Linked DNA regions of Homo sapiens: all the other regions are reported to be linked to region 3. The links are microRNA targets in miRTarBase. Many come from high-throughput screens and were not tested one by one. Region 3 holds a microRNA gene; each other region holds the end of a gene's coding sequence.
The links. The annotated mature microRNA hsa-miR-103a-2-5p reads AGCUUCUUUACAGUGCUGCCUUG and lies in region 3 at 4,505-4,527, opposite strand. An mRNA with a match to its seed (bases 2 to 7 or 8) in the 3' UTR can be bound and repressed. Matches are read on the target gene's strand: a 7mer-m8 pairs with bases 2 to 8, a 7mer-A1 pairs with bases 2 to 7 and ends in A, and an 8mer does both.

Region 1 (7,887 bases), not on the chromosome of region 3:
AGATGAAGATGTTTCTGGGTAAGAGAACCCCAGGCCTCCACAGAGCGCAGGTGGCCATGAAGCCTGGGTTTAGGAGTGGCCTCCACGCTCCACTGCTGAAAGGTGTGACTTTGGCAAGCCTTATTCCTTCCTGTGCCTTGATTTCCTTATTTGCAGATTTTTATAAAATCTGCCTATTAGGATATTGTGACAATGAAGAAAGAGAATAAAGGTGAATATTTCTGGTGAAAAAGTTAAACTGATTTTAAAATAATTCAACAAATCTGATTAGTGGTCATTAAGCAATATGAAAGATAATGATTAACAATATATCATTCTTAATAAGTTAAAAAATCCCACAGCAACATTTGTAATATGTGATAAGTTTTTGATGATGAACATTGTTAATTAATAGCCAACAACAGTATTTATCTTGACCCTGTGGTATCTGGCTCGTCCCTCCTTCCTTCTCACTTTCTTTCTGTTAGTCTGGCTCAGAGTTAGACGGTCCTACGGGGACTGTGCTCCACTTCCTTTTCCGGAACAGGGAGTGGTGGTAGGGTGTGGGGGAGGGTTTGGATGAGAGTCAGGAATGGGACATGGCTCTCTGCCAACCACCTCCTCACTAACCATGACAGAATGAATGATGACACCAATTTTGAAATGACCCACCCACAGTTATGTCACCCTAGAAGGACTTTTCCCATAATTCCATTTCCTGCAAATACTTCCAGTGACCTGTCAGTGAAGGAAATTTCACTCTAATCAAAGGCTGACCTTTGACTCTCCCCAAAATTATTTCCAAGTGGAATAATAAATAAATGAACCCATTTCTCTATTCACTAAGCAGATATTTCTTGAGCATTTACTATGTCCTGGGCTCTGCGGGTACAGAGGTGAGCAAGGCAGTCATGGTCCCTGTTTGATCAGGGCTAGGGCAGTGGGGCTCCCACCAGCAGCAGCAGCTGCATTGCCCAGGAAATTGTTAGAAATACAGATGTTCAGCTCCACCCCAGAGCACCTGAATCTGAAACAGATGTGTTTTAACAAGAGCTCCAGATGATTCTGATGCAAGCTTGGAACCACTGGTCTAGAGGATTCCAGCTTACATTCTTCTTCTTGTCCCTTCCCTCTTCTTGGCCTCAGTTTTCTCATCATTAAGTGTCTGATGGTTTTGTAAGACTAATAAAATCTCATCCTGGTTTATTTTCTTTACAGAAAAACTATGCTTTGAGTTGGACTATGAGCCAGGTAAGGAGCCTATGTCAGGATGGGAGAGAATGAGAAGTCCTCGGAAAGGAGAGAAAATTTTGCAGGATTTGCACTATGACTATGTTATGACTATGACAATAGTCATAACAAACACCCATGGATACATATACACATCATATATATTATATATACACATATGTGTGTGTATATAATACATGTGTGTATATATAGGTTGTGTGTGTGTGTGTGTCACATTGTTTGTAAGGCTCTCAGGAGAAACATGAAGAAAGGACAAGCACATACACATACTACATTCGTGGTATGAAGCTCACATCCTGATCTGCGCATGTCGAGTAGATAGAAAGATTAATGCAGAATGGGATAAAGTCCATCTGGGAATGCTTTCTGGATAAAGGGGACTTTGATCTGGGTTTATAATCACCTCTTTAGAACGTAAGGAACCCCTGCTTCCTCTCAGATGTCATTTCACAGATGACAGAAGGAGGGCGGCCTGTGGGTGGGAAAAAAATGAACAGAATGGACCCCTTCAAGGCTGTCATTTCTCAATCAACCAGCCTAAGACCCTGGGAGTCACGGAGTTGTTGGAGGGGGTTCTCTAACCCACAGATGGACCTAAATTTATGGAAGCTTCTCAATTTATGAATACTAAAAGTAACAAAACGCAAGGCTCTGCAGCAGTTTTTGGTGGTAAAAAGTGGTCCTCAGACTCTGACAGTTTCAGAATTACTGAGGCAGAGTGAATAACCCAGGGGTGAGCCAGAGAGCCTGCCAGGAGGGAAGACTGTAAATGAGTCACCAGTGCCCTGGGAGGAAAACAGGGAGGAATCATGAAGTTTGGACTGAAGGGAGAAATGTCGCTGCACTGTGGGATAGAGATGGGAGGAGGGGAGAATGTGGTATATCAGCCCCAGGAGATCCAAGCTGGCACGCACAGCTTTGGAAACCAGCCAACTTGCGGTGAGCAGAAGAGCTTTCCCGAGGACCACACTGAACTAAACGAGAGCTTTCACATCCTCTGAGGCAGGCTTTTCAGGCTTTACCTGTGTGCAAATCACCTGGGCATCTTGTTAGGATGCAGATTCTGAGAGCGTATATCTAACAAGTTCCCAGGTGGTTCCACACTGTTGGCCCACGTAGGCACTATACATGTTTTTGGTAATAATAACACTAACAGGAGGGGCCCAGGGGGAGTTTCTATGCCTTCCTTGGAGGTAATAGCATGTCTGCTGACATCTGTCCCTTTTGGTTATCCCCACAGCTCACATTTCTCTAGACCCTCAGACTTCCCACCCCAAGCTCCTCTTGTCCGAGGACCACCAGCGAGCTCAGTTCTCCTACAAATGGCAGAACTCACCAGACAACCCCCAACGTTTTGACCGGGCCACCTGTGTTCTGGCCCACACTGGCATCACAGGGGGGAGACACACGTGGGTGGTGAGTATAGACCTGGCCCATGGGGGCAGCTGCACCGTGGGCGTGGTGAGCGAGGATGTGCAGCGGAAGGGGGAGCTTCGGCTGCGGCCAGAGGAGGGGGTGTGGGCTGTGAGGCTGGCTTGGGGCTTCGTCTCGGCTCTGGGCTCCTTCCCCACACGGCTGACCCTGAAGGAGCAGCCCCGGCAGGTGAGGGTGTCTCTTGACTATGAGGTGGGCTGGGTGACCTTCACCAACGCTGTCACCCGAGAGCCCATCTACACCTTCACTGCCTCCTTCACTAGGAAGGTCATTCCCTTCTTTGGGCTCTGGGGCCGAGGGTCCAGTTTCTCCCTGAGCTCCTGAGAAGGAGCAGTTACCTACTCTCCTCTAAGTACAGGACTCATATCAACCCAAGTACCATGTGGACTTGATCCCTGGCTGAATCACCTGGATGACTTGGAATAGAAATGACTGCTTTAGAAGATGGGATGGGGCCGGGTGGTAAGGGATAGAAGAGAGGACTCTCAATCTACTGATCAAGTCCTTTCCCCAATGCCCAGTGGATGGCCAGGGTACCTGGGGACTCAGGCTGCTGCCAGTTCTGCTCACCACCATCCGTGCTTGGCACAGAAGTAGCTGCATAGAAAGGGCACTGGATTTGAAGTCAGAAGACCTGGGTTCTTGAACCAGCCTGTCAACCAGTTGTATGACTTTAAACAAGGCATCTCACCTCTTTTCATCTTGTTTTCTTCCAATAATGTTAGAGTTCATGTAATCACATTCTCTAGAACCATTTAGTTTGTGTTAACTATGAACCAAGCAGTGTGGTGGCCACTGGTGACTTGAAAATATAGAGAAAAAAAAAACCTGCTCTATATCTGAAAGAGCTCTTGGGAAGACAGAGAAACATAAAGAGGAAATTACAGCACAGTGTGGTGGGTGTTACGGGAAGTCCAACCCCAGCATTATGGGAGTTCAGGGGAAGGGGCATAGCCCAGCCTGGAAGGAGAGGGTGAGTGGGGGATGGCTTTCTGAAAAGGGTGGTCTAAAGGATGCCTATGGTCAATAGGGAAAAGAGGGGAAGAAGCATCTTAAGAAGAGGAAACAGCAGAGAACTGGCTGGATGACCTGTGACTCTGGAGCACTGGGTTGTCTCCATTGTCATTATGGGCAGATGTGTGCCATCCCCAGCCGACGCCACTCACTGCCTCCTTCCTCCTGGTGTTGCCACTTCTGGGTGAGATTAAGGTGCAGGGCCTGGGGGCAGGAGGACATAAGGTATAGCCATAAATCATAACCCAGGGACCACACTCAACCCTAGGGAAATTGTCTTCCTGATCAGTTGATTACCATCTGAGGTCAAGAAATGAGATAGTGGGAGCAAATGGGTCACAAATAGCTCAGCTGTGGGCTCAGAAACTGCTAGGTAAAAGAATTCCAGAAGGAGGCCAGGGCATAAGTTGGATGACCTATGAACTTTAGTCTAAAGAATTGAGACTACCGTAATTGAGACTACTGTAGTGACATCTGAGAAATGGGATGGAAGAGTGACCATGTTTTATTTTCTTGTTCTTGTCACTATTGTATTTTATTTTGCATAATCATGCCCTTCACTGACAGTCTCCTTAACATCATCTGTTTACTCTGCTCAGTGTAAACTACAATGCTCTGTCATCTCCCTACTGGGTCTCCTGGGAGGAGGGGAGCCATCCAGGGTGCAAACTCAAAGGCAGAGGGCACAGCGTGCTTAGGCCCAAGCTTAGAATTCAATTGAGAAGTTCTGTTGTTCATCCTTACCTCAGCAGGTAGAAAAGAGGTGGAGATCAGAAGCCAGGGATTAGAGATTGAATTGCTTTCCCTGGGAGTGTGCAGTATCTCATTAAAATGTTGTATATTCAAAAAAATACAGACACACACAAGTGCCTATATAATGATAAAACATATCCAAAGCACCCAAACCTGTGATTCCAGAAAAGTAGATCCTATTTTTGTTTATTTTTATTGGCTTTAGCTGTGTCTTTTGAAAGGACTATTATCCTCTAAAATGTATGTGTATGAAGATCCTGGCTTGCAGCTCGGGAGCTTTACACACCTTGTGTCACTTTATCTTGGTAACGAGCCAAGATCATGCAACCAGTTCATCCATGTCTGACCCAAGAGCTCTTAACTGCTATGCTGCACTGCCTCATTCAGAGATAGATGCCTGCATGGGTCCTGGCGATTATTTTAATGCTGGCTACACCCCCACAGGTGACTTGGATTCAGAAATACAATTTATATTTCTTCTTTTTAAATTGTTTTATTTTATTTTTCTTTTAATAGTTATATGTCAGTGAGAACAATTTATATGTCTTACACTGAGAAATAAAACTGCTCATAAGTGAAAACACTCATGTTGGTCTGTCAGTACCTGCTTCTCCCCTAGGGTAATTTTACTTGAAGTTTACTTGCTTTCGGAGTATGGAGTCAGCACAGGGGAAGTGGATAGATCCTAAAACCTGGTAACTTCAAGATAAGGCAGCTTAATGAACCTCCTTGCTCTGCTGGCCGGAAGTGGGACTCTGGGTTCCCTCCCCAGGAAGTGCTCAAGTCTAGAGGCCCCAGAGTCCCAGCTACCCTTTCCGACTCTGAAGGACTGTTGCACATTTGTAACATCCACAGTTTACACCTCATTTTTCAAAGCTTACATGGTAGCAACCCTTTCTATTGCAAAGAACTGAGACCCACTCAAGTTAGTTCAAATGATAGGTAAGTTTATTATAAAAGCAGAAATAAGGAAAATGCGATTTTCCACCATGAGCCAGGCCCCGTGAGAAGCTATGTCAGGCGTGAGCGAGTTGGTGGGGTCACCACTCGTTCCTGTAGGAAGAACTAGAGATTCCAAAAATGCTGATAACAATCACACACATAGAACTTATTTTGGCCAAACACCATAATAAATATTTGTATATATTAACTCATTTAATCCTCACAACAACCTCAGGAGGTAGGTGCCCATCTTGTACATAAGAGAACTGAGACATGTGGAGGCCGAGCAGCTGGTCTCAAATCAGCTGATAGTAAGTCGCAGAGCCAGCATTTGAAGTCTTGTGGTTTGGCTCCCGAGTCTGTGCTCATGACCATTATGCAGTGGTATGTTGTATGCCCAGGACCTACCGGTAAGAAGTGGGCTCGAAGTCCAAAGAAGCGTGAAGACTGGATATTCCTGCGGCCTCTCAGCAGCATGGGTCATGGACACCTGTTCCAATACATCGTGGCTGCACATGCATCTCTGATTCTCTCTGTGTCTGCTCTTCTTGCCAACTAATGACACATTCATCATGGATCCCTTCTGAATCTCCGAGAGGACCTGATGGTTTCAGTTAATTACTATTGTCCCTCTTTGATAAGGTCTTCCTTGACAGGTGACCTCATAGACTTGTTTGGCCAATTATCTGCTGTTCAGACTCCCACCCCTGGCCTGATCATCTGTGGTGACGTCAGAAGGGACCAAGGGGGGCCTGGAAGGCATCTTCAGTATAACTGAATTCTCTCCTGAGGAGAGACCCTGGGGGCTGTCAGTCTCCTCCTACTCCTAGTACAAGTTCTCTTGGTGACATTAACTCCATCTGGGATGCAGAAATTGCTAGCTGTCACTTTCAGGGGTGTTCTTTCCTTGGCTAATGTCTTGCTCTTAGATTTGGGATCTTATGTTTCTCTGAGATCTGCAGCTTCTTGCCAAATAACTATACCTTTTTTCTGAACATCTGCACTAGGCTCTTTCTCCTCCCCTCTCCTTCCAGCCCCCAACTCTCTGTCCCAGTCCTTCTTGTGCAAACGATCCAGACTGGCTTTCATTAAACACCACTTCTCCCTTCATTCCTGACTCAGAAACCTCACTATGTCTTGGTGTCATCCATTTAGCCTGTTGACTTCTCGTCTTCCCCATTCCTGAACATTCCAGCCTAACCAGGTTGGTTTCCTCACACTCCTACAAAGGTACCGTGGCTTTTTCCTACCTCTATGCTTTCATTCATGTGGTTATTGTGACCTAGAATGTTCTCACCTTCCTCTCCCACTTGTCCAATCCCCACCTCCCCCACAAAACCTACCCTGACTTTCCCAGGCTCGCTGTTTCTTTCCTCTGAATTCCCAGGGCACTTAGCCTCTGTGATACCTAATTCAGTGCAGTTACACGCTCTCTTCTTATTCTGTAGCTGTTTAGTCATAGTTCCACAGCTAAATTATAAACTTCTGGATGGTGAAGTGGAATTTATTTAAAATTTTTTTATCATTCCATATTTCATTTCAAAAGGGGAAGTGGTTTTTTTAAAAAAAGATGAAATGAAAAAGGATGAGTTCATGTCCTTTTTAGGGACATGGTTGAAGCTGGAAACCATCATTCTCAGCAAACTATCGCAAGGACAGAAAACCAAACACCGCATGTTCTCACTCATTGGTGGGAATTGAACAATGAGATCACTTGGACACAGGGTGGGGAACATCACACACCAGGGCCTGTTTTGGGGTGGGGGGAGGGGGGAGGGATAGCATTAGGAGAAATACCCAATGTAAATGACAAGTTAATGGGTGCAGCACACCAACATGGCACATGTATACATATGTAACAAACCTGCACATTGTGCACATGTACCCTAGAACTTAAAGTATAATTAAAAAAAAATAACAATAAAGCCAGAATACACCAAAAAAAAAAAAAAGATAAAATGAACATATTTGAATGTTTACGTTTTAGACACTTTAGCAGACACTCAGCATGTATTTAATTTTGACAACAATCCCAGGCCACAGGTACCATAACCCTTATTTTAGAGGGGGGAGTACAGAGGTTCAGAGAGGCTAAGTAATTTGCCCAAGGTTACAGAGGCATTAGGTGTCAGGACCGAGACCTAAACTCAAGTCTGACCCTGTAGTTTTCACTCTTTGCACCACCACGTGGCTTGTTTTATAATTGTGGCCATGTTTTATTCCTTATACCTCTCAGTATGGTATTGACTACTTTGGCAAAGGCTCAATAAATACTGATTATAAGGTAATTGATGGCTCTTTTTAATCAGAGGATTGAGAAGAGCCCTTCCTTATGCTTTCTTATTAGTTCACTTATACATACATTTAAAATTTTACTGGACACCAGCTATGAGCCAGACACTGTTCTAGACATGAGGACACAGACAGAATATGATCCCTGCTCACCCAAAGAAGTGAGGCTTATACAAAAATGACTAATATACAATTGTATTCATTATCCATTACTCCACAAAA
Region 2 (7,887 bases), not on the chromosome of region 3:
ATGGTGCTCCGAGCAGGGCCCCTTGGCGTCCTCTTGGCCTTGCGGGGTGGCACACAGCAGGTGTCTTGGGGCCTATGACTGGCCCTGGCAGCTGCCTGGATAGCAGCACGGAGAGAGAGCTGGGAGCCACAGCAAGGTGCAGACAGGCTGGAGCAAAGGCCTCCCCATGACCTCTGCCGCCTCCCTGTTACCCCTGTTCTATAGCTGGTCGTGCAGATCCACAAGGGAGCTGAACATTTCACAAGACACTCAGATGCGTTTGTCATCTGTCCTCAGAAGTTGAGTTTTGCTGCCAAATTAATGCCGCTAGAGACCCATGATGTAACCACTTATTTTCTTTTTTAAAAAAATTTAAAATGTATTTATTTTATTTAAGATGGAGTCTCATTATGTTGCCCAGGCTGGTCTTGAACTGGGCTGAAGCATTCCGCCCACCTCAGCCTCCTGTGTAGCTGGGACTATAGACACACGCCATGAGAGCACCACACACACGTGCCCACCACACCGCAGCCCAGCTCCCGGCGCCAGCCACCTGCACTCACTGCCACCATGCCTGGCCTACAGTCATTTATTTTCTAGGGGGCAGACAGTTAAGTGCACACATGTTGGAGGCCGTGCTCATGTTACCAAACTCCCTAGGCCTCACTTTCTCCACTTATAAAACAGAAATCGGAAAAACATCTGCCTTGTGGTGGTGTGTACAGACTTCACGTGACAAGGCGTGTGACACACTTCACCCTTGAAATTCCCTGAGATGAAGTATTCGCATGGTCACTATCACTGTCTATGCAAACAGGACAGGGTCCCAAAGCTGCTTCCACGAGCGTGCACACATTGGTGATTTTCAAGAATATATTTTATCTGACTTGCTTTCATGTTCTATCTCAAATTTTTTTCATGTAGGAGCTGAAAGATCTCCGAAAACAAAGTGAAATCATACCTCAGCTCATGTCAGAGTGCGAATATGTCTCTGAGAAGCTAGAGGTACGTGGGTTGGGGGCACAGCCATCCTGGCTCAGACAAGAAGGCACAAATGTCATGGTACTCATTTTCCTGCTTCCTATCACTTTCACACTGAGAATGCTGAAGGAGAGATTTTCTATTCACAAAAAGCTGGCAGTGACTGCACGCCAGATGGCACCGCATCCACCCCTGCCCCCGGGGCAGACTCAGCAACGTTTGTCTTTTGGTTTTGCAAGTTCTATGAAGGCCCCTGTGCATCACCACAGTGTAGACGACTGTTTCCTTGCAGATCCCTGGTGGGGGTGAGGAGCGGGGGGGCGGCCTGAGAGCCCAGGGTCAGGGTGTGGGGCCACTTCAGCCACTCCCCTGCCAGTGGCCTTGGGCACTGACCTTGGGCAGGCCTTCCTCCCTATCCTCAGATTTCTGATCACTAAAATGAGGATTTTCAGGGCTTCCTCCACCTCGGAGCGCCTCTTCCCTGCAGGTCCTCTGATATGCACACGGCGCTTCATGTAGTTACATGACCCTGGAATTGGTAACTGCTTCCTGTGCACATGTTCAGAAAGGTCTCTGTTTATTCCCTCAACATAAAGCTCTTATTTGATATGAAGAGTTAAAGGCTTATGGCTCATTTAAGGACTCACAGCTGTCCTGTCTTTGGGAACCTGCTTGTGATTTACCTAGATGTGCCTCTGTAGGCTTGTGGGGCCCAGCGCCACAGAACATCTCCATGGTAACAGCATCAGAGGGTGCACAGACTGGCTGTCCCTGAGTCATTGGCATGGCCAGTCCTTCCTCTCTGAGGGCCAGAGGCTGGCCTGGGGCTGAGGAGGCCACGCCTCTCTGTGGGACCAGGGGAACGAGCCACTCTCCCATCTGTTCTGTCTCTCAGGATGGAACTGAAATGTGGTCTCTGCTAGCCACTCAGACAGGGATTTCAGACTTTCCCTGCTGGGCCCTGTGTGAGGTCTCCCTCAGGCAGGACTCTGCGTTCTGCCTGCTTTGTTGGGTCTTGGGTTTTCAGGCTGGGTGTTGGTCCCTCTGTGGGAGAGCAGGCAGGAAAGGAGGAGGTCACTGAAGTGCCTGCTGCTTCCCTTCTGATGTCTTGGTCACAGGCTTGTGTGCTGGGGTAGCATGTCTCTAGGCAGCTTAAGCCCTGGCCCAGGCCCTCAGATTGGATGGAGAATGGTTGGTTCAGCTGTAGCAGGTTTTGAAGGATGACTCTCGTCACTCAGTTTTCTAGACCCTTCTCCCTTTTGCTTGGCCAGGCGGCAGAGAGAGACAATCAAAACCTGGAAGACAAAGTGCGTTCCTTAAAGACAGACATTGAGGAGAGCAAATACCGACAGCGCCACCTGAAGGTGGAGTTGAAGAGCTTCCTGGAGGTGCTGGACGGGAAGATTGACGACCTGCATGACTTCCGCCGAGGGCTCTCCAAGCTGGGCACCGATAACTAGGGCTGGCCGAGGCCCAGGCCCCGCCCGTGAGTCCCAAGCGTGTGTGCGAGACCAGATAGCTCTAGGACGTTCTTCTGTGTGCATTGCTTCTGTAAATGCAGGCGCAGTTTGTCGTGTTTCCAAACCAGTTGTGCCGTCCACTCACTCCTTTTCAGAATAGAAATCTCCTCTCGCTTCTCTGGCCTTGTGAGGTTGTGGACAACTGGAAGATTCTGACTCAGGAATCCAGAACTAGGTCTACCTTCAACATTTATGCAGTCAGGGCAGGGATGTTTATATCTTTCATAAGGGCTGTTGCAACCATATGAACTGAAAAAACACGCATTTTGTAATCCAAATATTGATATTCTTTACACCAAGCCATCAGGCTCCTTTTATCAAATAGCATTCAGAGTATTTGAATGTCCACCAGACACCAGCCCCGGGGGGCACAGAGAGAACAACATTCCTCTCTGTCAACATCGAGAGGCTTTAAAACAACTGTTTAGTGGAAACTTTCTGAGAGATGGAAAACAAGCTTCTGGTGGGTGCATTTTCTGGCCCGGAGTTGCCTGCATCCACGCTACTGCCCCCTGCCCCCCGCCCCCCCAGTTTGTACGGTTGCAACAGTGTTCCTTTTCTTGGTTTTAATTTCTGAGCAGATGATTGTGCTGTGGGAACAGCACACAGTGAGGGTGCCTAGCACAATGTCTGGCACAAAGTAGGTGCTTAATAAATATTTGTTCAATTAAATGTGTACACAGAATTTAGTGTTTTAATCAAACCCCACAGCAGAGCTGGGACCCTGTCGAATGATGCACCATCTTTGCTGTGCTGGGTAGTTAACAGACATGAATACCACTGTCTGGTCAAACCCAAGCTGGGGCTCGGGTGGCCCTGGGGCAGGGAGGGAGAAGGGGAAGCAGCAGGAGCTGGTCTCAGGCCCCTGGAGCCCATCCGTGATGCTCTGCCCCTGGGGCTCTCCAGACCCTCGAATCACCTTCTCCCCTAGGAATGGTGACCCAGGGATTCCAGGTATAGGGGCTGCCCAGGGCTTGGTACCTAGGGTAGGATTGTCTTATGGGTCTGGACAGCTGGGAAGAAATCACAGGCATTTCGGGGGGAGAGAGCAGCTCAGCTGACAAGCCTTGGCCCTCATGACAGAGGTGTTCCACCCAGCTCTGCGTCCTGCCTTTTTCAGTTTCTCCTAGGGAAGGGACTGCAGCCATAAACCTCTCCTCTCTCACAGAGCTGCTCAGTGGGGCCAGCGGGCCTGTGGGTGCTGTTGGCATCCTGCCCTGGGAGATTGCCCGTGTGTGGCAATAATGGCTTGAATCCCTGGCCCCACACATCTCTAAATGCCTTGAGCAGGGGGGAGGCTTTGGTGCCCCCTCACCCCTTTGAGAACCACCTAAGAGGACTACTCCTTCTAGAAACCTTCTCCCATGGACGTGGTTAGACTTTCTCCCTGCTGAATTTGGATTAATGAGCAAACAACCCGAGGAAGGAGGGAGATGGGGTCCGAACCCAGGTGCCCTGGGCCCCAAGGTGAACACGAGTCCTCCTGCTCTCCTTCCCTTCCCCTCACGGAGACGCCTCTCTGAGCTGGGGAGTCTTGTTTGGGATGTGGATGGAAGGGAAGGCTGGGCATCTGGAGCACCAAGGCACTTTTAGAGGAGCTCCCGCAAGGTGAGTGGGGGCTTTGGTTGAGTACATAGGGCTTTTGGCAGACAGGAAGTGGAAAGCGTGGCCAGCCATCTTTGTGATTCGGGGTAGTCTGCTGCTGGCCCTTCCCTTTCCCCAGAGCTCCAGACGGCTCTCAGGACAGTTGGTAGCAGCTCCCTCCTGGCTGCACCAGGAGACCAGAGAGCCGAGCTGGCTATGAGTCAGCCCCGTGGCCCAGCAGCGGGATAAGGGGATTCTCAAGCCAGCCTGGTCTGCCCAGCAGCAGGCTGGGTGTGTGGCTGCCTGGGAGCAGTGGACACTGGGTTCCAAACACCTTCCGCTGGGGTCTTCAGATGACCTCTGCCTTTATCAGGTGACTTATGAATCTAGAAAGAGCCCGCTTGACTGACAAGAGAATGCTCAGGTGACATGCATAGAATAGTTACTGAAGCCACTTGTACATTCTGATAGCAGTGACTTTAGAAAACTCCAGAAGTGGAGGTGTAGAAAATGTTGGAAGAGCCATTTCCACAGTGGGCTGCTGTGCAGTTGAGACCCATGATCCCAGTTCACCAAGCACTGAAGAGTGTGGTGAGCATCCTGTGGGCAGCAGGTGAGGAACTTGGATTCCTCCTGCTGTGTGTCCAGCTCTACAGCTGTTGCAACCCTGGAGCTAAGAGTAGTAAGGACTCCCTTAAAGGGAAAGGTAAGTTGGGCTTGGCCGTGAAAGCACAACAGCTTTTACAAAAGCACTGAACTTTCCATTCCTTCTGCTTTTCTCTGAAGATCTCAGTGTCTTTTCATTTACTTTCTTTTAAAATAGTGGCCCTGGAGCAACCTGGACGGTGTTCCCTTGAGCTGGTGTGACGTGCCCTCGTTTATTCTGACATCCAGCCCAGTCTCAGTACTGTTGTCATAACCTTACGCCAGACTCAGGCAGAATGTAAGCCATTCACTCGTGAGCATCGCAGCCGCTTGTGCTGCCTGGAAGCTGCAGGGCCAGGACTGCATTTTCAGTTTGCAATTGAGGTCTCCTGATTTTGGTGTTTCCAAGACTGGCTGCTATACCTTGATAAGCTTTCCTTCTGCCTCCATGAAACCTGGTGTCTAAAAAAGATCAACTAAAACTTGGAACCCTTTAACCAAGAGGACCTTTAAAAATAACCTTTCATTCCAGTCAAGACCCAGCTGGATGCATTTTAAAGTTGGGAGTGGCGAGGAAGCCTTCCTAGTGCCGCCCGGGGAATGTAAAACCACCAGAGCAACAGGTTGGGACAGTATGGTCAGGCCTTGGAGGGAAAGAGAACCAGTATCCACACAAGACCTCGAACTTGTGTGGCCCCTCAGTTTCATCTCTCCTGCCTGCCATCACATTAGACTTTAATTGGGTGAGAGAACAGGGCAGAGACTGTCACCTGCATTTTGCAGATGGGAAGTAGAGACAGAGAAAGTGACACGCCCAGGGTCACCCAGCGGTGACCAGCAGCGTGGACTCTGCATCCAGGTCTCCTGGACCTTGATGCAGTATCTTTTGAGACATGCCACTCTAGTCCCTTTGGTGACCCGTGGGTGCCAAGAGAAAATAATTCTTATATCCTGATAAGAGCATATTACAATTATATTATTTCAATATGTGTCCACAGCAAAGGACAGTTTACAAAAATGTGAATCCGAATGACATTTAGGAATGTTTGTTATAAATGATAAGTTCCACTTTGGAATGATTCTGGTTTTGCAGGAATCTTTCCAAGAAAGTTGGTTAAAATGATGTCTCTGCCTGTGAGGCCAGTTCTATGGAAAACAAACACACCCTGAGTTCTTTATTGATGGCTTTAGTGGAGGCAGAGCAGTATGTTCAAAACAAGTGGGAGGCCCTGAGATCGCAGGAATGGAAACAGAGTTCTGGCTGGGGGTGGCCTGTCCACTGCCCGCCCCTTCCTGGAGATGCACTCCTTTCTGGCTTTCTGGGGAGGGAGCAGCCTTGCTCAGTGGTGGGAGCAGCTTGAACGGGACCTGATCAACACCCAGGAAGACTGTGCACAGAGGGCAGTTGGTCTCCAGCCTGCAGGCTCCATGAGCACAGCCTTGATGGTGGTGGGCAGGCGCCTGCCTGCTGTGGACTACATTTGATGCAAAACATCAAGTAAAGGGTGGAGCGTAATACAGTGAATATGCCTCCCAGAAACATCATGCTCTGCCTATTTTAACAGGGCTCTTTTTCTTTAGAAAAGTCTCCTTCTCTATAGAAACCAGGGACAATTTTGGATGAGAGCCAACCACAGGACGCGCTGGGGACGTTATGGTGGGACCTCACATGTGGCCAGGTGCACCTTTGGGAAGAAGGCAGACGTGATGTGACTTAGCACAGGCACTCAAAAGAGGCAGCCACTGGTCTTTGCTAATATCCAGAAGTGGATTGTTTGTTCCATTCATCCTTCTAGAAGCTAAATTCTTTCATTGCCTTGAGACATCACTAGATTTTGAAGCACTTGCAAACTAGAAGCTTGCAAGATCAATGTCCATGTATATTTTTAAAGATATGCATGCTTTAAAAGGACCCTAATTTCTGAGTACATGGCTTCCCCAAAGAAACAGTATATATTCTGGAGATGATGGGGGTTTTGGCATGGAGAGGGACTCCTGTCTAGTCTAGAAAATGTTACTTACATGCCTCTTCCATGTACCGATCTCAAGAATATGGGTTTTCTAGTTGGCTTTAAACACTACCCAGGCAGGAAGGTGGCTTTGGTAAGAATTTTGAGCTGGATGAAATGTTCTAGTGAACTTACGACTGTGTATGTGCGCACGCGTGTGTGTGTGTGTGTGTGTGTGTGTGTGTGTGTGTGTGTGTGAAGAAACAGCAAAAGGGGAAGTGGGAGAAACAGTAAGGAAGCGTTTTTAATTAAAAATATGTATACCTAAGAGGAGACTTTATTTTCTATTTCTGGTGGTGGTGATCTATGTTCTGGAATCCATTTACCAGAAGTTTGTGGATCTTTTGTTTGAAGTGGAATTGTTCAGTGCCCTACTCTCTTTGACGGTGCAGAGCCTTGCGGCAAAGTGTTCTCCTGGGCCCTAGAGACCCCCAGGGCACCTGGCAGGAGCCCGTAAACCACGGCAGAGTCCCAAGTGGTGCATGTTTTGGCGAGTGATGGGCAGGACTGATGATTCACAGCTGTGAGGCTGTGCTATTGTTTTTACCCTCTTGTACTGCTTTTAATAGGAAGTCCCGACTTTACGTCAGTTGTGAGAGCAGCGTCTTATGATGTGACAGGCAAGAAGACATTCCTTGCATCAAATATAAGAGTTTAATGAGAAGAGTGGAGTGGATAAGTGAACTCTCCCAAGAGTACTGTTTTTTGTTTCCCTTTTTAAATGCTTTCTTGGTACATAAATAATATAATACTTTTTTTAAAGAAATTCCAGATGAGTGGGAAAAAAACCAATCACCTGTTATTACACTATCTGATTATAACCACTGTTAACATTTCAGTTTTTATCTTTTCAGACTTTTTTCTATGCATCTGTGTGTGTTTTATTACTTTTTCCATGAAATATAATCATATTATACATACTGTTTTATAACTTTTATCCCTTTTAATGCTATATTGTGAATAGATTTCTATATCAGTAAATATGTAATTACATTATTTTTAACCTCTATGTAGGTTGTACCTTGGATACTTAGGTTGTTTCCAATTTTTTTACTGTTGTAGTCAAGGACATAATGAAGTTCTTCTAACATCCTTGCGAACTTTTCAGAATATTGACTTAGGGTAATTTTCTGAAGTTATCACTGGCTCAAAAGTACGCGCCTCCCTAT
Region 3 (7,887 bases):
CAATTTAAAAGAAAGGCATATTGGCTGGGCGCAGTGGCTCACAGGTAACCCAGCACTTCGGGAGGCCAAGGCAGGTGGATCACTTGAGGTCTGGAGCTCAAGACCAGCCTGGCCAATATGGCAAACCCCGTGTCTCTACTAAAAATACAAAAATTAGCCAGGTGCGGTGGCACGTGCCTGTAGTCCCATCTACTCAGGAGGCTTAGACAAGAGAATCACTTGAACCCAGGAGGCAGAAGTTAAAGTGAGCCGAGACTGCGCCACTGCACTCCAGCCTGGCTGACAGAGTAAGACCCCATCTCAAAAAACAAAAAAAAGAAAGGCATATTGACCATCTTTGGTTTTGGTGTGTATAAATAAAATAAAGGCAGCCACACCAATCTGTGATGTGAGGCGGCCAGCAGCTACAGGACAAGGCACAGCTGAAATACAGAGGCAAGGCTGTTTGTCTTAATAGTTCACTATACAGTTTGTTTTAGGCAGCTTTCTGTACCTTTTATTTTATAATAAAAATATAGAAGATACAGTTAACCATTATATATATATATGGGGGGGGTCCACTGAAGACTAGGATGCTACTATCAAGACAGAAACAGGTGGTTATAAACTACAACGTGCTAAGATGAGAATAAAGGATCAAAGAGGAAACGCTTGAGAGAATCTATACGAAGCTTTCACAACAAAAGTTAAAGTGACTTCAATGTGAGGGCAAGAAAATATTTCAAGGCTCAGAGAGGCTAAAATAATCAAAGTTCTGAACTGAACAATGAGAACACTTGGACACAGGAAGGGGAACATCCCACACCAGGGCCTGCCATGGGGTGGGGGGAGGGGGGAGGGATAGCATTAGGAGATATACTTAATGTAAATGACGAGTTAATGGGTGCAGCACACCAACATGGCACATGTATACGTATGTAACAAACCTGCGCGTTGTGCACATGTATCCTAGAACTTAAATAAAAAAATAAAATAAAATAATCATCAAAGTTCCACAAGGGCAGAGATGCACACAAGAGTCAAAGGCCTGAATGCAAATGGAAAACACAGGGACAAATGGACCAGCAAAGCTAAGCAGTGGGAAAAACAAAGTCAGCGAGCAATAAGGACAAAATGCAACCAAGAATTTCACGAAGGCTTATAACTATTATGATGATATCGGTTTGGTGTTTTGTTTTTTGTTTTGAGATGGAGTTTCGCTCTTGTTGCCCAGGCTGGAGTGCAGTGGTGCGATCTCGGCTCACCGCAACCTCTGCCTCCCGGGTTCAAGAGATTTTCCCACCTCAGCCTCCCAAGTAGCTGGGATTACAGGTATGTGCCACCACGTCCAGCTAATTTTTGTATTTTTTGTAGAGACAGGGCTTCTCCATGTTGGTCAGGCTGGTCTTGAACTCCTGACCTCATGATCCGCCCACCTCGGCCTCCCAAAGTGCTGGGATTACAGGCGTGAGCCGCTGCACCTGGCCTGTTTGGTGTTTTTGTTTGTTTTGTTGTTGTTGTTTGTTTTTGTTTTTGAGACAGAGTCTCGTTCTGTTGCCCAGGCTGTAGTACAGTGGTGCGATCTCAGCTCACTGCAACCTCCGCCTCCCAGATTCAAGAGATTCTCCTGTCTCAGCCTCCCGAGTAGCTGGGGATTATAGGCGCCCGCCATTGCGCCCAGCTAATTTTTGTATTTTTAGTAGAGACAGGGTTTTGCCACATTGACCATGGTTGGCCAGGCTGGTCTCCTGACCTTAGGTGATCTGCCCATCTCAGCCTCCCAAAGTGCTGGGATTACAGACGTGAGCCACCGCACCCAGCCTATTTTTTTTTTAAGGTTAACTTAAAAAACTAATCTCCATGTTCTACCTAGGAAAAGGTTAAACAAGAGGCAGAAATAAAGCAGAAAAAGATCTAACATTCGAGTTTAAAAAATTCTAATATAAAGCAAAATAAAATAAGTCAGATCACAAAAAAAGATGTATACAGAAACATGAACTGTAAGAAACTTAATGGCAATTCGGTGCTGGTTTACAAATACAGTAATGTTAGAATTTTAAAACTAAGTTAGATGACTTCAATTTTAAGCTTTTTGATATGGGGATTTGTGTACTTTGGACTTCAACTATGAACTAAAGCAATTTAAAAAGAAAAACTTAAAGTAACTTTAAAGGAAAAAGTAATCTCTAGCACTTCAAATCTGTGCTATTATCTGGACTTTGATTTCCTTTAATTCATATAGACTGTTAAACTAAATATGCAATACAATTCTGAAAAATGTTCATAATAACAGTATCTAAAATCCAAGAACAGTTGAAAGAATAGTTCAACTGCCCCACAACCAAGAAGGGAAGAAAGAACCCCTACACGCCTTTCCATACCTCTGCTTCTTTTTCCCCAAATAGGAAAAATAAGAGTGCTTTCCAAGACAGGCTATGAGGTTGAGCAATTTGATTCTTTTCCATTTCATCATTTCCAGCCTGTCTACAATTGTACTTAAGTTCTTATGATAGTATGGTTCTAGTCTGAGAGGTTTACTCATCTATTCATTTTTACAACATGCATCTTAAATAACTGGCACAAGAATTACAACAATATATAAAAACTGGCACTGAAAAAAATGAAAAAACCAGAACCCAGAGTAATGACACAGTCAGTGCAATAGAAAAAATATAGAGGATAGTTCAGACAAAAATATGGCATCAGAAATATAGGGGAATGTTCAAGGGTTTTTCTCTAAAATTCCTTAAGCTTACAATTAAATTAACCCAAAATTTACCTTGCATTAGTATCAGGGAAGAAACAGCTTTCAAATGTTACGAAATTAAACTACCAAAAAAGTTCAGGCACAGTGGTTCACACCTGTAATCCTGGAACTTTGGGAGGCTGAGGCTGGCAGATCACTTAAGGTCAGGAGTTTGAGACCAGACCAGCTTGGCCAACATGGTGAAACCCCATTTCTACTGAAAGTACAAAAATTAGCAGGGTGTGGGGGCGCACACTTGTAATCCCAGCTACTTAAGAGACTGAGGTGGGAGGACTGCTTGAACCCAGGAGGCGGAGGCTGCAGTGAGCCCCAAGACTGTGCCACGCACTCCAACCTAGGTGACAGAGCGAGACTCCGTCTCAAAAAAACAAAAAACAAAAGAAACACTGCAGCCCATTTCACCTCCACCCTCTACCTCAAGTTCCATGACAGTGTGACCCACAAGCCCTCTGTGTACATAATATACCACAACGAACAAGTCAGCTTACCTCGTGTTCCGAAAAAAGTGCTTTCAACTGCCCCTTGGACCAATAATCCAAAGCATATGCCAAAAGCCGCATGGCGATCGTATTAATTCTCAAGAAATTTCCAACAAATACCACCTGGTTAATGTTCTGAGCACACCAAAAAAAGGCAATTAGTTTTCATCTTAATTTCTATTTTCTCATAAAAGCTACCCCAAATACAGCACCATGTGCATAGCTCTTAGCAACAATTTGACTGCTGATCAAATTTAGTCCAGTTGGTCCAGGGCTACTTAAACTTGATCCCCAGACAACTCTGGACCCACTGCAAAGCATGCTAGATAATGTCACAGGAGAAGAAAACAGATTAGGAAAAACATTTGTATTAAATCTGACCAACAATAACTAGTTTTGAATACAATGTTTTATACAGATAAGTTAAAATAAACAAAAAAAAACAGTATGACTCCAATCCAAAAGGACAGTGACACAAACAGGCAAAGTATACAAGCAATATAACAGGCAGCGAAAAATTCAAACCACTAGTCATCAAACAAAAGTAAAATTTTAGACCTATTAACCTCGCAAAAAAAAGCAACTGAAATTCCACCACCACCATCAGTAGTTGTAGTAAAATTAATCCACTCATTCACCGCTAAAGATGATCTAAATTGGTGCAGCCCTTGTGCAAAGCATCATGACGATAAATGTCAAAATTCATGAGCATGATCATTTCTGTAGACCAGAAATCTCACTCCTAAGCCCCATATCAAGAATAAAATTCAACCAAAGAATAACTTCATGCTTAAAAATGCTTACTGCCGAGTTATGAGCAAGCAACCAAATGCCAAGCTCTGTTATTTGATATAAAAGAACTTGATCAAATAAATATACAACCATGAAATGTATATTTAAGTATAAAATACAAATTGTGGTATGCACACCAACTAAAATTTCTGAAAATACGTAAGCACAGGAAAGGGAACATACAATAAAGAAAAAAGAAGTTATGATATTCCAACAAATGTTTAATTACTTGATGCTGATACAGTATTTTTTTAATTTAAAATGAGACAAATCCTTTGTGTCTTTTGAGGTTTCCTTTTAAGCTACATGCCTATTATTATCTAAAGAATAACTTCTTAAAAATAAAAATAAAAGAATAATTTAACAACTATACACACAGGGACAAGCCATAAGCTGCACCAACTGGATCCTAGATCCTCTTTTCCCAAGGGCAGCCCATTCTTGGTTCTTTCATAGCCCTGTACAATGCTGCTTGACCTGAATGCTACAAGGCAGCACTGTAAAGAAGCTGAAAGCACAAAGACGCAGCTCTGCTGAGGTGGGGGAGCCAAGGAGGGCACCCCTCGGCCTGCTCAGTCTTCTCCCAGCTTCCGTGACTTCCTCTGGATTCCTCCCTAGGGCCTCTAGAGCTCAGCAGTGAGTGTGGAGTCTACATTCAGCATCGTTATCCATCATCACCCCCAACAGTCCCCAATATCTGGAACACTGGCTACCTTCCACTCTTCCTCTACTTTCTCCTCAAAAGATGTCATTTTACCTCTAGACAAGTAGCAATGTTTATCTTCAGTTTAAAAAAAAAAAAAAGAAGATTAATCTGTATTTGAAGAGTTTTAACTTCGTGCTAAAACAAACCCCACCCCAAATGACTACATTTAGGCACTGTTCTGAGAAAACAGACGTGATGGGGCCCACTTAAGTTCAGTATTTTCCTTAGAGCAATTAAAGAAATCCATGTCCCCTTACTTCATTAAGGGCACACATTCTTGCTATTGAGCCAATGTTGTTGGTGATGGTGATCAAAGTCGCTCTGGCCAGGTCCTCTTTACTGACAGCCTCTCGCTTCTCCTTGCTCATCATGTTTCCAAAGCTGTGATGGGGGAAAAAAAATCCCATTGCTAAACCAACAGCAACAAAGCCCAACAGAACTTGAATGTTACTTTATTGAAATAAAATTAGCTTTTAGGGCAACATTGTTGAAATCTTCAAACCTTTTATTTTGCAATGGAGCATCTGTTCAAAGAGAAATGCAAACTTCAAACAGAGCCCTCCAACATTCTAAATGAGCAGACAGCTTTCCCTGCGGTTTCTACTGAAATCTAGCTTGGATACCAGATATTCACATATTCAGTTAGAATCTCATCAGATGCACTGGAAGGCACCATTGCTCCTGCAACCAGACAGTTCCAGGACAACACCTCTAACAGCAATTCATCTCAACTGCACAGCTGTTCCACTCAGATGGCCACATGCACATCTGGTAAACTGCTCTATCAGAGCAGAGTAAAGCACAGACAGCTGAGTCCCAGAGTGAGCTGCTTAAGAATTTCAGGTTTCCCTAGAAGATAAAGTACTTCAAAGTACATGCTCAGCAGAACTGCTACAATAATTTTCCAATCAGAAAAGGAAGTGATGACCAACGAGCAAATGTTACAAACAGAAAATCAACAGCATTGACCAAGTGCCTAAAACTTAGTAAACAAGCATGTATACATATGATTTTTCTATTAGTAAAAGCCATGTGCCCCAATATACGAAAAACAATTGTACTTCTAAACGATCTCAAAATGGAGACAATGATTTCATTTATAATAGCATTAGAGAATAAAACACTTACGGATATATCTAACAAAAGTATTAACACCTGTACAATAAAATCTACAAAACACTGCTGAAAGAAAGCAAAGATCTAAATCAATGGGAAGACATTCCATCTTTTTGGATCAGAAGACTTTGTATTAGGATGGCCAAAAGATTCAATGTAATCTCTATTAAAATCCCAGTTGTCTTATTTACAGACCTTGCCAAGTTAACCCTACAATTCATATTCTCAAGGTACCCAGAATAGCCAAAATAATCTCGAAAAAAGAACAAGTTGGATGACTCACACTTTCTTACTTCAGAACTTAATACAACGCTACAGTATCAAGGCAGTATGGTACTGGTATAAAAACAGACATATATATCAATGGAACATAACTTAAGAGTCCAGGAGTAAACCCAAACATCTATGGTCAACTAATTTTTGACAAAGGGGCCAAGAGAATTTAACAGGGAAAGAATCATCTTTTCAACAAATGGTACTAGGACAACTGGATATCCACACGCAAAAAGAAATGAACTTGGAGCTCTACCTCACACCATACACAAAAACTTACTCAAAATGGATCAAATATAAGAGCTAAATATAAGAGCTAAAACTGGCGGGCGTGGTGGCTCACGCCTGTAATCCCAGCACTTTGGGAGGCCAAGGTGGGCGGATCACGAGGTCAAGAGATCGAGACCATCCTGGACAATATGGTGAAACCCTGTCTCTACTAAAAATACAAAAATTAGCTGGGTGTGGCGGCACGCACTGTAGTCCCAGCTACTCAGGAGGCTGAGGCAGGAGAATCGCTTGAACCCGGGAGGTGGAGGTTGCAGTGAGCCGAGATCGCACCACTGCACTCCAGCCTGGTGACAGAGCAAGACTCCATCTCAAAAAAGAAAAAAAGAAAAAAATACACACACACACATATATATATATGAGCTAAAACTATAAAACTCTTAAAAGAAAATAAACAATTCTTCATGATCTTAAATTAGGCAATTCTTCATGATCTTAGATTTCTTACACATAACACCAAAAGCACAAGTGACAGAAGATAGATAAGATTAACTTCATCAAAATTTAAAATTTCCATGCTGCAAAGGACACCATCAAGGAAGTGAAAAGACAACTAACAAAATGGGACAAAACATTTGCGAATTATGTATCTAATAAGGGACTTGTATCCAGAACTCAATAATAAAAAGACAATCCAACTAAAAACTTAGCAATAGACTTCAGCAGACATTTATCCAAAGACTACAGACAGATGGCCAGTAAACACATGAAAAGATGTTCGGGCTGGGCACAGTGGCTCACACCTGTAATCCCAGCACTTTGGGAGGCCAAGGTGGGTGGATCACTTGAGGTCAGGAGCTCGAGACCAGCCTGGCCAACATGGCCAAACCCCATCTCTACTAAAATTACAGAAATTAGCCAGGCATGTTGGCATAATTTACAGGTGTGCCTGTAATCCCAGCTACTTGCGAGGTGAAGCAGAAGAATCACTAAAACCCAGGAGGTAGAGGTTTCAGTGAGATAAGATGGTGTCACTGCACTCCAGCCTGGGCAACAGAGAGAGACCCTGCCACACACACAAAAAAAATGTTCAGCCAGGAGTGATGGCTCACACCTGTAATCCCAACATGTTGGGAAGCCAAGGTGGGAGGATCACTTGAGGCCAGGACAGCCTAGGCAACATAGCAAGACCCTATCTCTACAAAAAAAAAATTAGGCAAGGCAGTGCACAGCTGTAGTCCTAGTGACTCAGGAGACTGAGGCAGGAGAAACACCTGAGCCCAGGAGACACAGGCTGCAGCCAGTTATGATCGCAACACTGCACTCTCATGTGGGCAACAGGGCGAGACCCTGCCTCTTAAAAAATAAAAACGCTACAAGATATCACTTCACTCCTATTAAGACAACTAAAACCAAGAAGACAGATAATAACAAATGTTGACAAGAAATATAAACGCTCATAAACTGCTAAGATTGTAAAATGGGACTGCCACTTTGGAAAACAGTGTAGCAGTTCCTCAAAAGATTAAACATTAAGTGACCATATG
Region 4 (7,784 bases), not on the chromosome of region 3:
GCCACACCCAGCTAATTTTTGTATTTTTAGTAGAGACAGGGTTTCACCATGTTGGCCAGGCTGGTCTCAAACTCCTGACCTCAAGTGATCCGCCCACCTTGGCCTCCCAAAGTGCTGAGATTACAGGTGTATGCCACCACGCCTAGCCTGTTTCTTCACTATGAAATGGAAATTAAAATGTTAAGAATTAGATTATTCATGTAAAATATAGTGTTTAACACCATATGTAGCATATAATGCTCTAAAATTATTACTGTAATATGTTAATTATAGAAAAATTATAAAACAAAGATGAACCAAAGTAAGAAAGATATTTCTTTTTTTTTCTTTTTTTTTTTTTTTTTTTTGAGACCGACCATAGCTCACTGCAGCCTTGACCTCCCAGGCTCAGGTAATCCTCCCACCTCAGCCTCCCAAGTAGCTGGGACTACAGGTGCATGCCACCACACCTAGCTAATTTTTAAACTTTTTGTAGAGACAGACTATTGCCCAGGCTGGTCTTGAACTATGTTGCCCAGGCTGGTCTTGAACTCCTGGGCTCAAGCAATCCTCCCACCTCAGCCTCCCAAAGTGCTGCAATTACACATATGAGCCACCACACCTGGCCAGAAAAATATTCTTAATCCAGAGCTATTATCATGAATATTTTGTTGGTCCTCCTTTCCTATAGTAATATGTGCATATGATTGTTAACCAAAAATAAAGCAAGTTATAAACCCATATGTTGGCTGGGCACAGTGGCTCACACCTGTAATCCCAGCACTTTGGGAGGCCGAGGCAGTGGATCACTTGAGGTCAGGAGTTCGAGACCAGCCTGGCCAACATGGTGAAACCCCGTCTCTGCTAAAAATACAAAAATTAGCCGGGCATGGTGGCAGGTGCCTGTAATCCCAGCTACTCTGGAGGCTGAGACACAAGAATCGCTTGAACCCAGGAGGCAGAGGCTGCAGTGAGCCAAGATCCTGCCACTGCCCTCCAGCCTGGGCAACAGGGCGAGATTCTGTCTAAAAAAAAACAAAACAGGCCAGGCACAGTGGCTCACACCTGTAATCCCAGCACTTTGGGAGGCCAAGGCGGGAGGATCGCGAGGTCAGGAGTTCAAGACCAGCCTGGCCAAAATAGTGAAACCCCGTCTCTACTAAAAATACAGAAATTAGCCGGGCATGGTGGTGTGCGCCTGTATTCCCAGCTACTTGGGAGGCTGAGGCAGGAGAATCACTTGAACCCAGGAGGTGGAGGTTGTAGTGAGCCGTGATCTCGCCGCTGCCCTCCAGCTTAGGCAACAGAGTGAGACTTCGTCTCAAAAAAAAAGCCAAAAGAAAACCTTATGTAAAATGTTTGCCTTGCAGGCCTTTAGTGCTATACCTAGTCAGGTCACTTATCTTCTGGGACACTATCTCCTTGTTTTCCATTGTTTATTTTCTCCACATCCTTTGAGATCAACATACAGAAATCAACTATATTTCTATAACTTTGCAATGGACAATCTGAAAATGAAATAAGAAATAATTGCATTTGTGAATAGTATAAAAAAATCCATAGAAATAAATTTAACCAAAGAATTGCAAAATTTGTGTTGTGAAAACTACAAAACGTTGAAAGAAATTAAAGAAGACCTAAAGAAATGGAAAGATAGCCTATATTCATGGATTGGAAGACAGAGTTTTGTTAACATGGCTATGCTCCCCAAATTGGTCTACACCCAGTCTCTATTAAACACAGTGTCTATTAAGATTCCAGCTGGCTTGGTGCAGAATCGACAAGCAGATTCCACAATACATATGGAAATGCAAGAGGCATACAAAAGCAAAAACAGACGTGGAAAAGAACAAAGCTGAAGAATTCACACTTCCCAGTTTCAAAACTCACCAAAAAGCTGGAGTAATTAGGGCAGTGTGCTACTGGCAAAAAGACATAAAGAGAAACATCTTTGTTAACTACCTCAAGAGGTCAGCTTCACAATTTAGCGCTGGACTGCTAGCTTCTCAGATAATCAGCCTTAAGGAGTTTCCCCTCTTCATTATAACTTTTCTTTCAATTTGGGGGAAAAAAAACTACATGTAAATAATGCAAAATAATACAGAACAGTGTGAAGCAGAGTCAGGATTCCCATCTCTCCATCAAGTGTATTTCTTTCTAGTGTATGTTTGATTTCTAACTGACTTTAAAAATCATTTTGTGGGGCCAGGCATGATGGCTCACACTTGTAATCCCAGCATTTAGGGAGGTCTGCAGGTAGGAGGATTGCTTGAGCCCAGGAGTTTGAGATCAGCCTGGGAAACATAGCAAGACCCCATCTCTACACACACACGAGGTTTTGCCATGTTGGCCAGGCTGGCCTCGAACTCCTGACCTCAGATGATTGGCCGCCTCGGCCTCCCAAAATGCTGAGATTACAGGCATGAGCCACCACTCCTGCTTCACAAACTCCATTTTGCCTTTGGCAGAGGACGTGTTTTCTTTCTTCATGCCCTCTGGATATGATAGAGGTCCCCAAGCTTTTCCTGGCTACCACTTGCTCTGACCTTATACATGTTGGGTTTTGCTCTTAAAGAGGACAGCAGGAAGAAAGGTTGGTTTCAGAAACCAAGAGGGTTGGCAGTGGATGTGTAGATTTTGTCACGGAGTCCGCAGAGCTCAGCTTTTGAACCTCTGAGAAGTTTCATTTCTTGTGCAGAAAGAGTACACTTGAATTCAAGTTTGCCTTTAGAATTGCACTGAATAAAATACTGCACACTAAAGGAAAGCTTATTTTCTGCATGGTTGTCTTTTCAAAGACAATATTCGAAGCATGTTTCCTAGAGATTGTGTGGATGAGGGTGAGCTGGCTGAGGCATCACTCAAGCTAGGGGTGGTGTGTAAGAAGCACGAGGAGCCACAAGAGGCACCTCCTATAGTCAGCTAAGGGCTTCCCTTTCTGCGCCCAGCTTTTGGTTGAAGGGTGAATTTTTTTTTTTTTTTTTTTTTTTTTTTGAGACGGAGTTTCGCTCTTGCCCAGGCTGGAGCACAACGGCACGATCTCAGCTCACCACAACCTCCCTGGTTCAAGCAATTCTCCAGCCTCAGCCTCCCGAGTAGCTGGGACTACAGGCATGCACCACCACGCCTGGCTAATTTTGCATTTTTAGTAGAGACGGGGTTTCTCCATGTTGGTCAGGCTGGTCTTGAACTCCCGACTTCAGGTGGTCTGCCTGCCCCGGCTCCCAAAGTGCTGGGATTACAGGCGTGAGCCACCACGCCCGGTGAAGTGTGATTTCTATTAGACGAATCTGTGGTTCAGTCATGGATGTTAATAGAGGAACCTGTTTTCCTGCTACAGATTCCTGAGTAAAATTGCTGTAAGAGTCCACTTCTGGACTCAGGGCAAGTCGAAGACCAGTCTATGTAGAAAGGCTGAGGCAACTGGGAAAGACCTGACAGCTAGTTACATATATTCTGACATAGTCCCCCCATAATGGCTTTTAGTGACACATGTGCTGATAGAATTCTAAACCTCTAGAATTCCCCTGCTGGTGATGCTGGTGTCTTCTTTTGTGCTTGACTGTACAGGGTAAACTGATGCAGAATGCTGCAAGTGTGATGAGAGCTAGAACGCTGTGAAAACTCTTGCTAGGAAGGTTGGGCTCGGTGTGACTTGCTCCAGTAGGAATCCTGGGTAGAGATTTTTAGCTGCAATTAAACGGTACATCCAGAGCCAAGGGTGACTCTCAACTCAGGTAGTTCTACAGGTCAGGTGTGAATTTACCAAATCTCCCAATTTGTTTATTTGTTTTGTTTTGTTTTGTTTTTTTAGAGGAGGGTCTCGTTCTGTCACTCTGGCTGGAGTGCAGTGATCACAGCTCACTGCAGCCTCAAACTCCTGGGTTCAAACAATCATCCCACCTCAGCCTCCCAAAATACTGGGATTACAGACATGAGCCATTGTATTTAGCCAAATCTCCCAATTTAGAAACTCCTCTGTAAAGGGTTTGGGTCTGAGCTATATGTTTGGTCTTTTTTGTTTGTTTTGTTTTGAGACGGGGTCCCACTCTCTTGCTCAGGCTGGAGTGCAGTGTCACAATCTTGGCTCACTGCAACCTCCACCTCCCGGGCTCAAGTGATCCTCCCACCTCAGCCTCCTGAATAGCTGGGACTACAGGGGCACACCACCATGCCCAGCTAATTTTTCTGGGGGTGGGGTGGGGACTTTCTATAGAGACAGGGTCTTGCCATGTTGCTCAGACTGGTCTTGAACTCCTGAGCTCAAGCAATCTACCTGCCTTGGCCTCCCAGAGTGCTGGGATTACAGGCATGAGCCAAAGCACCCAGCCCTGAGCTGTATGGTACTTCAAACTGCCAACACGCCAGCCCCGGACACTCTGATTGGTATTCTTTTAATTCATCAGACTCCATGTGCAATAAATGACTGAGTGTTGAAACTGTTCTTTTTTGTTTGCCCAGTCGGTAGATGGCCACTTTTTGTAACTTTTTTTTTCATTCAGGTTTCTATTTTTATTCAACTATAAGCAAACAGCACAATTAATGCAATGTTCAGCAACTCCAGACCAGCTTTTCTTACTCCCGTGAAGAATGATCAGTTTAACAAACACCGATCTAAGGTTTCCTCCCAAGCTGTCAGCGAGCGCTGCTGCCGGTCTAGATGGCCATGTCCCAACAACAGCAGCGCCACTCTCCCTCCTGCTTCTTCCAGGATTGCTCTTTAAAGGGACCAGAGCGACATACTGATGCCTATTGAGGCATCTGAGATGCACCGTGTTGGGGGTTAGCCTCAATGCCAGCCTCTGGTTGTCTAGGTGAGTGACATCACCATAAAAACACATTGTGTACCATTCTGGACTCAGGATCACAAAGGCAGAGGCAACCAATCTTTTTTTTTTTAAAACCTTCCTTAAAGATTCTTTGATGCTTTGCTCTATCACTGTAGACCTGGTTTTTTCCCCCTAGTTTTTTCTTTTTTACATTCTGGGTTGCTATTTTCAGATTAACAATTTGATGACCCCATCACAGTACCAAAATATCCCCCAAAATGAAGTTCAAATTTGATCAAAACATAAATCAGAGTGAGTGAGTAAAATTATAAAGGCCAGGCAGCAGGAAAAGTCACCCTCAACCACCATCTGACTGGTCAGGTCTCACCTGTGCCAAGGGGGGCAGGAAGAGGAGAAACCTATTATACATGCAACACTGAACTGGGGAACATGGCTTGGGGCCTCCAGAACAGTTCAGGTCCCCAAGCTAACCCACTAGTTCCCAGAGAGTTGCTCGTACAGTTTGGGCACATAGTCGTCCCACTCAGCCTGGTAACACGTGCCAGCCACCGGGGCCCCGAGCTCGTACTTTTTACGGAAGGACACCACCTCAAATTTGCCACGGTGGTCTCCAGATCGGTTGCTGAGGATGGGCTCGTCACACTTTAGTGGCCTGTCCTGCTCATAAACCAGCCAGACATAGCGGTGGAGACCTGTGCCCTTGGGAGGCCCCGAGCCCACATAATCGGAGAGGAGTGTGTCACTGCTGATGTCATTGCCCTTCATGTTGACCACCAGGAAATGATGCCATTCTCTGTATTTGGGATCCTTCCTGCTGGGAGCATCAGGGTCTGTCAGGACCAAGGTGTAGAGCTTCCCTGAATCAAGACCATCCCACTAAATGCTGGTGGGTCTATTCTTAACCTGGGTGGGCGTCAGCACTTTGCCCAGCTCGTCCACCACCGCCCGGGCGTAGGTGACATGCAGCAGGTGCTGTGACCGCTCGTCCATTTCTCGCAGGCTCAAGGGCCCGGACCACTTGCTGAGGTCCACCGGCATGGCAAGGCCAAGCAGAGCATGCAGCCGGGAGTGCCGCGGTAGGCCAGGTGCGGGCGGCAACAGCGACATGGAGAGCTCAGCACACTGGCCTGGGAAGGCGCAGACCCCACTTTTTGTAACTTTATAATTACTTAATTTTATTTTTTTAAAGCTTATTTTGGTGTTATTCAGTATATAGTGTTTTACTGAGCTTCTGCAAATGCCATCACAATAATAGTTTTGTTTTCTTGAACAAAAAACCAAAATAAATTTCAAATGTTAAAGCAATGGAATCAATAAATTTATTAATGTTACATTAACACGAACTACAAAGAGACCTTTCGTATGTCTGATACCAAAGACATAACTGAAAAGTCATTTTTCCAAACCTTGAGCTTGCATTCACCTACCTGTCTAACCCTCACATGTGCTAATTAACTGCAAATGCCATTTCTGGGCTTCACACACATTCCGTGGCTTTCCCTTTTCTGATGTGACTTCCCTCCCTTACCCCACACCTCCCTGCACTGTCCCCTGCTGTGCCCTTGGCTGGAATGCCCTGCAGCCTGCTTCAGCCCAGCAAAGTATTCATCTTACCAGTCCATGCCCTGACTCCTGATGTCACCCTTCCCTGCATCACCCTTCCCTGTGTATTTGGTGGATAAGGCTTGATTGAGGCTCAGGTACTGAGTCCCTGCTGGCACATTGAGAACCAGCTGCCACCCCGATGATAAGGAAGACAGACCCGGGACTTCCATATGAATTGGATATGATCATCTGACATGCACCCTACTAACTGATGGATCCTGCTGTTACCCCAAAGCTCCAGAACCACACTGGCCAGACACAGGCATTTCCTGTCCCCTGAAGAGCCACTGAACCCAGCACAAAAGAGATCTAGAGCTCTCCAAACCTATGGAATGGCAACCAAAACCACGCCCAGGTTTTGAGTTAAGCCTCATTAGTCTCCCTTTTCCCTTGACAGTGTAGAACTGTGCAGCGTAGCACTAAATGAATGAGAGCAGAAGCCTCAGGACAGAACTGAACCCACCAGGTTGAGCTGACAACACTGCCAGGGGTTCTATCCACAGATGGAATATTCGCTTTGATCACTGAGTTAGGAGGCATGGGTGAGGGATGCAGAGCGCCGCTCGTCATGAGACATCAAGCTATCCAAGTCAATATCCTATTAGTAGGGATGGCATGTTATAAAAGGCGTAAAGATCTCACCTGCCCCAGCTGGAAGCAGTGATTCCATTGCCCCAGATTCGGAATTGTGATTTAAACTAGGCCTCTCTTCAGGCATCAGAACCAAATTAGAGTGCTTTATACGTGCAAGGAACTAATGCAGAAAGACATTATGGGTAAGTCAAGGGAGATGCCCCAGCCATTGGGCAAATTCCTCTGACTCCTCCCTGATGGAACTAATTCTTTTTCTTCTGTGCCCGGATCCTAGAATCAAGATTCTTAAGGTCTGAGTACAAGTTCCGCTTCAGGATGGCGCTGCTGCACAGCAGGGCACCTTGCAGGGCCCCGACCAGTCCACAGGTGAAGATATCCTGGCCTAGGAGGCAAGAGCAGAGGCCCCTGAGCGTGCACCCAGGCAGGCCCAGGGGAGGGTGGGGCCTTGGTGCTCTTCCCTCCACATGAGGGCCACCCAGAGCTGGCTCCAATCAGACAGGGGCCACAGCCTGCCCAGGCAGCCCTGCTCAGGGGATGGGAGGCTGCAGGGGACAGCAGGGCCTGAGGGCAGGAACAGAGGACGTTGGGCGACAGGGGCCCAGGGTCTCAGGTCCTGACAACATGGGGCAGTGAGTATACCTGTCAGATAGAGGTTGGGGATGGGGCTCTGGGCCCTCAAGGAGGCCATCACACAAGGGTGCAGGCGGCCCAGGTCATGGTCAGCCCCGTAGCAGGCACCTCGGGGAGCAGCCAGATAGAACTGGTTGGTGAGTGGGGATCCTGCAGTCACACTCTCCACCTGAGGGCAGAAAGGGT

Region 1: miRTarBase lists TRIM10 as a target of hsa-miR-103a-2-5p. Seed matches in the 3' UTR shown: 8mer at 3,707-3,714.
Region 2: miRTarBase lists HOMER2 as a target of hsa-miR-103a-2-5p. The part of its 3' UTR that is shown has no 7-base or 8-base seed match.
Region 4: miRTarBase lists RETSAT as a target of hsa-miR-103a-2-5p. The part of its 3' UTR that is shown has no 7-base or 8-base seed match.

What each region holds. Positions count from the first base shown.
Region 1 is chr6:30,149,070-30,156,956 of GRCh38, reverse strand. It overlaps TRIM10 (tripartite motif containing 10), which reads left to right. Exons shown (of 7, transcript NM_006778.4): 5 at 1-18; 6 at 1,198-1,230; 7 at 2,471-5,014. The coding sequence ends at 2,988. Among named protein-coding and RNA genes, the nearest start is that of TRIM10, 8.2 kb to the left of the region's middle.
Region 2 is chr15:82,844,248-82,852,134 of GRCh38, reverse strand. HOMER2 (homer scaffold protein 2) reads left to right here. Exons shown (of 9, transcript NM_004839.4): 8 at 904-984; 9 at 2,232-3,152. The coding sequence ends at 2,420. Among named protein-coding and RNA genes, the nearest start is that of WHAMM, 39 kb to the right of the region's middle. RefSeq lists an enhancer at 1,559-2,334.
Region 3 is chr20:3,914,144-3,922,030 of GRCh38, reverse strand. It overlaps MIR103A2 (microRNA 103a-2), which reads right to left and starts at 4,537; the gene lies at 4,460-4,537. It overlaps PANK2 (pantothenate kinase 2), which reads right to left. Exons shown (of 7, transcript NM_001386393.1): 5 at 4,981-5,104; 6 at 3,235-3,360. MIR103B2 (microRNA 103b-2) reads left to right here and starts at 4,468; the gene lies at 4,468-4,529.
Region 4 is chr2:85,336,032-85,343,815 of GRCh38, forward strand. It overlaps RETSAT (retinol saturase), which reads right to left. Exons shown (of 11, transcript NM_017750.4): 10 at 7,608-7,767; 11 at 5,924-7,350. The coding sequence ends at 7,211. It also overlaps the pseudogene PEBP1P2. Among named protein-coding and RNA genes, the nearest start is that of TGOLN2, 12 kb to the left of the region's middle.